Linked DNA regions of Homo sapiens: region 1 is linked to region 2. Evidence: fine-mapped expression QTL. A gene starts in region 2. The other region holds a variant in brackets. All regions are shown on one strand. Distances are between the middles of the regions.

Region 1 (4,386 bases), 110 kb after region 2:
CAACCTGTTCTGCCTGGGGCCAGGCTGTGAAGGGGCTGAGGGACAAGTCCACTGCCATCGGGGCCTCTCCCTGAAGGGAGTCTTCTGCCCCAAGAAACATTCTTCCCTTACCCGCAGGCTCATTGGTTTATTTTAGCCTCTAGTGGAAGGACACTGGACAGATGTCCTTTGATTTGAGGACACACACCTTTGGATCTGAGCTGGCTCCGTGCCCCACTGGAGCCCACACAGTGACTGTGGCCACCGCTGCTGGGAAGCCAGGACCCACCATCACGGACAGTTTCTCCACTGTACATGGGAAATGGCTTTGACAGGTGCTTTCTGGCATTTGGGGTGGATGGACTCATCCTCATCCCCATTTTCAAGCTGTGCATATGGAGGCCATGTAGATGCGGGGGCAGGGTGGGGGGGCAGGTGCCAGTTTCCTGAGCCTGCTTGTGGTGGGGCCATCGGGCCAGCCCACTTGCTGGTTTGTGACCTGTCTCAGTCTGTTCCCGCTCCTCTATACTCTTAGACTAGACAATTTATAGAGATGAGAAATGCTTTTCTTACAGGTCTGGAGAATGGAAAGTCCAGGACCAAGGCATCAGCAGATCTGGTGCCTGATGAGAGCTGCCAAGACCCTAGCTAGGCCCAGGCCCAGTGCTAAGCCACCAGGCTTCCAAGATGGCGCCTCCTTGCTGTGTCCTCCCATGGCAGGAGGGAGCAAGGGCTAAGAGGGCCTAGCTGGTTCCCTTCGGGCCTTCCATGAGGTCGCTCATTCCATCCATGAGGGCTCTGCTCTCATCACTTCACATCTCCTAAAGGTTTCACCTCTTCATATCGTCCTATTGGGGCTTAGCTTCCTACTTTGGGGTTTTGTGGGGACTCACGTATTCATGCCCTAGTGTGACCTAATGTGACATCACGCCTCTCCCCTCCCAGCTGGGTTGCGGTGGAGACAGCCAGCTGTCCCCTTAAGATGCCCACCCCCCACTTGGAGGAGGTCTGAAGTGGAAAGTGGCTAGGGAGGCTGCCATCACATTTCCCAGGCTGCCCCCAGGGCTAGCGCTCGCCGGCGGGATGTGAGCAGAAGCAGCAGTTAGGAGAGTGCCTTCCCCACCTCCCGGCCCCTACTGGCCTCTGGATTCCAACCTCTCTGAAACTCGGTATGGCAGGGCCACAAACCAGAAGCAGATGTGTCCCTGAATCGTTTGCGGTGACCCACATTCATCCTCATGGGAGAGACGCACCATCTTCGAATGTGAACGGTTGACATGACGGGGGCGTTTTCCCATGAGGCTGAGAAGTCCTGTGCATGCATTCCCTTAAAATAGAGACGTGAGCACCTGTGATTGGGGCCAGCTTGGATGTTCTACCAGAGGCAGTTTGCTGTCTGGTCAAAGAGGTCTTAGGGTGCTTTTTTGTCATCAGCCTCATTAAACAGTGAGCTGATCTTAAGTGACGAGACCATGAAGGTCACCACTGTGACATACTGGAAGTCTTTTTTTTTTTGAGACGGAGTCTCACTCTGTCACCCATGCGAGAGTGCAGTGGGACGTACTGGAAGTCTTAAGTGAGGTCATCTACCACCCAGCTGTGCTCTGTAACCCAGAGAGCGCAGCTCGGAGGGCTGAAGACAGGTATACGCATATCCATGAACACTGTCACTACTCCTGAGAAGGCGTCACTGCTGTCATTGAAAAGCTTTGAGGGCTGTTGTCTATGGTTCTTGAATTTGTAAGTGGAATTCCTGGCAGCTGTGTGATAAATCAAGCACAT[C/G]GGTGTCGGCGTGACCTTTGACTTCTGTCCCCACAATCTGTGAACCAGAATAAACCTCTTCACTCAAACTTCCACTTAGGATGGCACCTGGTTAATATGAATCATGAAGCAATCAAAACTGAGGTGTACGTTTCCACAGACGGCAGACTTAATTATTTAAGTGTTTCTTTTTTCTAAATAAACTGTAAAAAATGAACATATTTTATTTTAAAAATGGAAACAATTTAGAAGCTTATAGAATCAAGCTCCTCCCAACCCTATTCTTCTCATATTGGAAACTTCTATTGATAATCAGATAATCAGAATATTTCCAGTGTATTCCATGCAAGCCTATGGATTCCTGAAAATGTGGAGAGGATGTTATTGACTTGAATTCCGCTACGTTACTGTTTTACTTAGCAGTGTACCTTAAAGACCAAAATGTAGTGAACTTGAAAAAATCTGTTTTTTATTTTTATTTTTTTTTGGAGATGGAGTCTTGCTCTGTCACCCAGGCTGGAGTGCAGTGGCATGATCTTGTCTTACTGCAACCTCCGCCTCCCAGGTTCAAGGGATTCTCCTGCCTCAGTCTCCCTGTATCTGGGATTACAGGCACTCGCCACCACGCCTGGCTCATTTTTGTATTTTTAGTGGTAATGGGGTTTCACCATGTTGCGCAGACTGGTCTCGGACTCCTGACCTCAGGTGATCCGCCCTCCTCGGCCTCCCAAAGTGTTGGGATTACAGGCATGAACCACCGCGCCCGGCGAAAAAGTTCCGGCCTTACCAGCTTTTGTGGTACCCCACGGTGCAGACATGCGCATACCTACTTGCTTTGGGGGCATCAGTCTGTTTCTAACGTGGGCTGTTACAATCAGTTGAGCGTGTACGTTCTCTGTGCTCCTTCATGTGGTCGGGAGGCTCACGTGCAGCTGGTGATCATGCAGTTTGGTACAACGCTTCTGGAAAGAAATGGATTAATATAAATCGAGACTCTTAATTAGTTTGTCTGTTTAACCCAGCAGTTCTGTCCATGGGACCTTTCCTAAGGAGCAGTCATCGGAAACGCATTACAGGATCTGGAGAGAACCAGCCCCCGTGACCCCCACGTGGCCCTGGGACTTGTTAGAGCTTTCTAGCATCTTTCATTGGCTCTTTCCTCGTCTCTGAGGAAGGTCGATGGATGCGCCTTCAGCACAGCGTGGTGGTGGACGTGGGGTAAAAGAGCAGCCATGTTTAGCAAAGCCGGCAGCTCTGAAAAACTCACTCACAGCTGAGCATTTAGAAGGTCATTACAGTCCCGCAGAGAAGGACGCATGAGGACATCCCACAGAATGCAGTGTAAAATTCGGAGATTAAATATAAAAAAGAAGTCCAAATGCCCAACAGCAGCAGCAGAGCAAATTGCAGTCCATGTTTTGTAGAAATATTTGGCAGCCATTGATTTATTTTATTTTTATATATTTTTTTATTTGCAGCCATTTAAATCATGCTTATTAAGAGCTTCTAAGATTGTGGCGTTTGTTAAAATAGTAAGTAAAGCAACAATTCTACATTGGCAGTGACGGGTCCATAATGAATGAATGAAACTGAAGTACTGGGACCCTCCTTTTTGGCGCCTTACGAGACCCCGGGGAACTCTTGGCGCTGTGCTCCCACGATCACGTGTCTGTGTAAAATCTGCGGATGTTCGATGGCCTCAGGAAGGCTGCTGTCTGTTCCCAGCGTGACCCTCTCTGTCGCTGTCCCTGCCTTGTGGGTGGTGGTGGAGTGTTTGTAGGTGTGGCAGGACCCAGCTGGGGGAAGGGAGGTGCTTCATTTAGTTTGAGTTTAGTGGGATGTGTTTTGGGGGCTCACTTTCCAGGGAGGCAAAGCCAGCTATGCGGGTGGTGGGCCTGACTCTCAGGAATTCTTTCACCTCTTGTGATGGTTCCAATGTGTCCCCTCCACGTTTCATGTGTTGAAACTTAGTTGCCAGTGTGATGGTGTCAAGAGGCACGGCCTTTAACAGGTCATGAGACCACAAAAGCTGCCCTCCACGTCCAAGATGGCGCCGTGATTCTGTATCCGCCCGAGGGGAGGGAGGCTGTGTCCTCACAGCACTGGCAGGAGGGGGAAAGGCAAGTGGGAGATAACCGTGCGAGAAGCCTCTTTTATAAGGGCCTCCATCCCCTTTGCCAGGGAGGATCCCTTGTGATCTAAGCGACTCCTAAAGGCCCCACCTCTTAATGTGTTCACATGACCATTAAGTTTTAACTTCTAAATTTTAGAGGGGACATATTCAATTATATTATTCTACTCTGACCCTCAAAACTTGAGTCCTTCCCACACGCAAAATACATTCATTCCATTTCAGTAATTCCAAACGTTTTAACTTGTTCTAGCATCAACTCAAAAGCGCAGAGTCTTTTAAACATCATATGAGTGAGACCCAAAGTGTGATTTATTCCGAGGAAAATTTCCCTCCAGCTGTGAGCCTGCGAAATCAAGCAAGTCATCCGATTCCAAAATACAATGGTGGAACACACATAGGATAAACATCCTGATTCCAAAAAGGAGACATAGGCAAGAAGGAAAGAGTAGCTGATCCAAAGTAATTTCAATACCCAACAATGCAAATGGCATTACATCTCGAGGTTTGAGAAT
Region 2 (4,386 bases):
TGCCTTCGCTCTTTCAACCATCCTCAAGATGTACAAATGACATTTGCAGAACCGGTTCATGGAGGCGGTCCTTCTAAACAATCATTGAAATGAGTGTATCTATGAGGGGGCTTCTCCTATCCATGAGGGTGTAGAAGGTTCCCGGGTTAAACGGGATGAGAGGCAAACCTTGAAAAGAATCTGACAGAAATGAGAGCCAGGAGGAGGGGGAGAAGCCCTGTGCTGGGTCCTTGGCCCTAGCAACGATTAGTGGAAATGGCCGTGCCTGCGTCGTTGAGGGCTGTTTTCCCATAATTTAGCACACAGAATGGTACAGAAAAGGGCTCCCAAGCATTGTCATACAAAAGGAGAGTCAAGCTTGTGGCAGGAAATAGCAAGAGTTTAGGCCGCTTTGTGGTTGAGTCAAGAGCTGCTTTCGACTTTCCAGCTCTTCTTCAGAGCCAAGTAGTGGCTCAAGGGGTCCTGAGCTCAGAGCATCAGGAAGCCCGGAGGGGTGCTGGCAAAAACGGACTTCAGCAGAACCCTTTCTAGGACAGTGGGGATGGGGCTGGGATTCCCCAAAGGAGTGCTACAGCTCCCACAGACTGTGGCCAACCCTACCTTCCCAGGAACCTGGGGGCCACACACGCAAAACCCTGCTTTTGCAGAGAACAGCATGCAAGCCAGGCACGAGCACCCCTGGCCTTCTGTCTCTGCCTCCAAGCAGAAGGAAGGAGAATCTCCTGTGCAAAAGGGACTATGCGGTGGGGGAGGTGGGGGGTGGCAGGGGCATGTGAGCCTGCCTGGAGACGCCTCCCCAATATCCTGATCTGGCTCTGACCATTAAACTAACACATTTATAACACATGTGCACATACTAATATATGCACATAAATTAAGGGTGTAAGTGAATAGTAACAGCCTTCTAATGTGCAGAGCTTTCTGATTTTAGGTGAATAAAAAAAATGCCAGTACTTTTGCATCAAAGAGAGAGATAAACTTGCTAATTGAAAACTGGTTTTCGTGGAGGAAAATATGGAGGCGCCAGCTATGTAAATCAGCATATGCCCAGATCTAAAAGAAATCAGGCCAGGCCAAGAGGAAATTAAGCAAATCAGGATAATGAGGAAACAACCCTAGACGCAAATTAAAAGCACTCGGGTGCTTTAGGCCATCTCAGGAGGTTGGCAGTGGACAGGTGGGAGGTGATGCGAACACGGGTTTGGAGTACCAGGCGTGTCAGTGCCGCTGGGTGGGTGGGTGCCTGCTCTCCCACCCAGGTCAGGGAGGGTTTTTCATGCAAGTTCTTAAATGCATGGATCATAATGCTGCCTTTTGCATCCAGAAAGACCCTTCAAATGCCTCTAACAACACTGGTCTCGCGCTGGCATTAGCTGTGCTTGGGTTTCCTGGGTTTAGCGACCTAAGGGGTTTACAGCGCACGGAAGTCTCTGCCCAGCTGTCAGCGCGCGTCGCCAGGGGCTGCACTGAAGCTGTGGACCCGGGATGGGGAGGAGGCTGGCGGCCTCCGAAGCAGGGTCTACAGCGGGGGAGGGCTAGCGCCGTCTGGCGGTGGCTGCGCGTGGCCAGTGCGGACCCAGGCTCGGCTCGGCCGGCGCTGCCTGCGTGTGGTCCGGGCGGAGCGAGGGTCCTTGGAGCCCGGTTCGTCCTGGGTCCCAGGAAGCTCGGCGTGCAGCGTCAGAGGCCGCGTGTGCTGGGGGAGGGAGGAGTACAGACTGTGCCTGGGGGCATCCAGGACGAATTCACAGAGGGGTGGTCCTGCCCCACCCAGGGGGTGTCGTGGGCAAAGGCCCTGGGGCCACCTGCCTGGTGCCTTGGAGGGCGTAGGGCAGGAGCCGCCGAGGCCCGCGGGCCACTGTGGGGCGCGGAACTTCAGACCAGGCACCCGCGGCTCAACTTCCGGGCCAGGGGACCCGCGGGGGCCTTACGAACCTGTTTGGCCCATTTGTGCAACAGAAATCCGCCCGCGCCTAGCAGCGTCCGGGGCCGCCTGCGCCGGATCCGCAGCCCAGTACCCTCCGCGCCCTGGACTCCGAGGAGGCCAGGTAGAGAGCGGCTCGCGCGGTCCCCGTCTGCGCCCTCAGCCCCGCGCTGGGCAGCGGGACATGCCTGGCTCCGGCGCCGCCACCTCGGCTTCCGCTTGCCCTTGAGTGCGGAGCCCGGAGCCTCCCTCGCGGTGCGCTGGGTCCCAGAGGGCCAGAGGCCACCAGGGGGCCGGCATCGGCGGGAGCCCAGCCGGGCGCGCCCTCGGCCCTCTCCCACCCACGTCCTCCGCGGCCGCCCGGGTCCAGGGGCGCAGCGGGGAGGAGACCCCGGCCAGGGCCGGGGAGCGCGAGGGCGGGGCGGGGTCCGGCGGGGAGGGGCGCGGGCGGGCGGGGACCGGGGCGGGGGCCGGGTCCGGGGGCGGCGGCGGCGCGGGCGGGAGGAGGAGGAGCTTCCCGCGCGGGGCAGGGGCGGAGCGAGCGGCCGCGCCGCGGAGCCAAGTGAGTTCGCTCCGGAGCCGCGCCGCCGCCGGCCCAGCATCTCGGGCGCCCGCCGCCCCCGCCGCCGCCGTCAGCGCGGGGATGTAGGATGCAGGCGGGCGCCAGGTTCCAGCGGCGGCGGCGGCAGCTGCAGCAGCAGCAGCCCCGGCGGCGGCAGCCTCTCCTCTGGCCGATGGACGCAGAGCCGCCGCCGCCGCCGCCCTGGGTCTGGATGGTGCCGGGCTCGGCCGGGCTGCTCCGGCTCAGCGCGGGGGTCGTGGTTCCCCCGGTGCTGCTCGCCTCGGCCCCGCCGCCCGCGGCCCCGCTGCTCCCCGGTCTCCCCGGCTGGCCGGCCCCGAGCGAGCCGGTGCTCCCGCTGCTGCCGCTGCCCTCTGCGCCAGACTCCGCCGCCGCCGCCGCCGCGCACCCCTTCCCCGCGCTCCACGGGCAGGTAACGTGTCCCCGTCCCGCCTCGGCCCGGGTCGCCGTCTCCCCTGCTCCTGGGCGCGCCCTGCCCGGCCCGGCTCTGGCCTCCGGCTCGCGCGCCCTCCTCCCCGGCGGTCCTCGCCGCCCCAAACCCTCAGGACGGAGCCCGGCAGCCGTGCCTCGGCGAGAAAGTTCGTGCTTGGACGCCCGGTCGTCCACCTCCGCAGCTTTGGCAGGTGCCTCCGGGTGTCTGGACGGAGCCGTGGAGGGACCCGCCGCCCAGGCCCGCGTGGGGACCGCAGGGAACTCGCGCCACGCCGGGGGTCACTGTCCATCGCGAGGTGCTGAAGTGGCTCCGTGACCGCCGCGGGCCGTGGCTGACATCGCGGAGAAGTTAGGACTTTCACAGTCTCTGCCAGACTTGAAAGCAAGCTGGAAATCGATAGCTGTTTCAGCTGTTTCAGATTCTAATCTGGTTTGGGTTTTTCCCCCTTTCATTTGAAAATAGACTCAGGGCAATGCTTAAGAGAATTCCAACCGACGGAAGTGGCCGGGAAATCCTGCCTTCGGTACTGAGGGATGTTACCGGAGATTCCCCTGCCCCAGGCCTGCCGGAGTCCACCACATTCGCTAATGCCACACTGCACTTTAGAACTAGAGTTTGGCTTTTAAGACATGGGATTAAAAAGAAAAAGTGACTGAACCTTTGATAAATGGTGCAGCAGAGCTAGGCGGGCTGGTTTGGGCAAGATTCATTGTCAGCTAACTATGCAGATGCATTTAAATCAGGGAATAGCGTGCATTTTATTCCAAGGATTGACCTCATTAGCATATTCAAACGGGTGTTATGTTAGAATACACCATTTGATTAATTTAATTCCAATATTATCTTGTGAGCTTTTCTAAAAGATGTTGTTAAACTCCTGCTAAATTGGTCTTTAGACTTAATGATACATCACATATGCAGCACTGGATATTGTATTTTTATGTGTGATGCAGTTTATTTTGGATTTTATTCAAGAAACGTTGGTAGTTTTTGCCGTATTTTGGAGGGGTGTTATATCAGAGTGCTGCCACTAGAGGTATATAATGTCAAGGAACTACATTTTTTAAATTCTGCTTTAAAAAACTGCATTTTTTCACTTATATAAATTTAAAAGAAAATTTAAAAAACCTTAGCATTAATCTTTTAAATATTTTTGTGCTACCCAGCTTCTGTAAAGTAAGAATATGTACAACCAGAAGAACATTTTCATGTAACAGGAACATCACAAATGCTTTTACGATTTTAAAACAATAGGTACTGAAACGTTCCATGTCATTGAGCAATGCATTTTATTAGTGCCTTATGAGGTCTCAGTTATTTTAATTAGAGAGACGGTGCCCTGAATTACCAGCCCCTTTCCATGACTGATGTTTTATTCTGTGTATTGAGATCTTCAACTTAGAAGATGCTTAGTTTTTTTTTTTTTTTTTTTTTTTTTGCCATAGAATCTAT

What was found.
Region 1: its variant is fine-mapped to the expression of TCERG1L in thyroid (GTEx, PIP above 0.99).

The regions. Positions count from the first base shown.
Region 1 is chr10:131,200,423-131,204,808 of GRCh38, reverse strand. All of the region lies in intron 4 of TCERG1L (transcription elongation regulator 1 like), which reads left to right. It overlaps LOC105378563 (a long non-coding RNA gene), which reads left to right. Exons shown (of 5, transcript XR_946484.1): 4 at 1-290; 5 at 555-2,256. Among named protein-coding and RNA genes, the nearest start is that of TCERG1L-AS1, 110 kb to the right of the region's middle. The variant C/G (reference allele first, on the strand shown) is at 1,762.
Region 2 is chr10:131,309,821-131,314,206 of GRCh38, reverse strand. TCERG1L (transcription elongation regulator 1 like) reads left to right here and starts at 2,486. Exons shown (of 12, transcript NM_174937.4): 1 at 2,486-2,913. The coding sequence starts at 2,572. It overlaps LOC101927461 (a long non-coding RNA gene), which reads right to left and starts at 2,351. Exons shown (of 3, transcript XR_242763.6): 1 at 1,933-2,351; 2 at 1-73.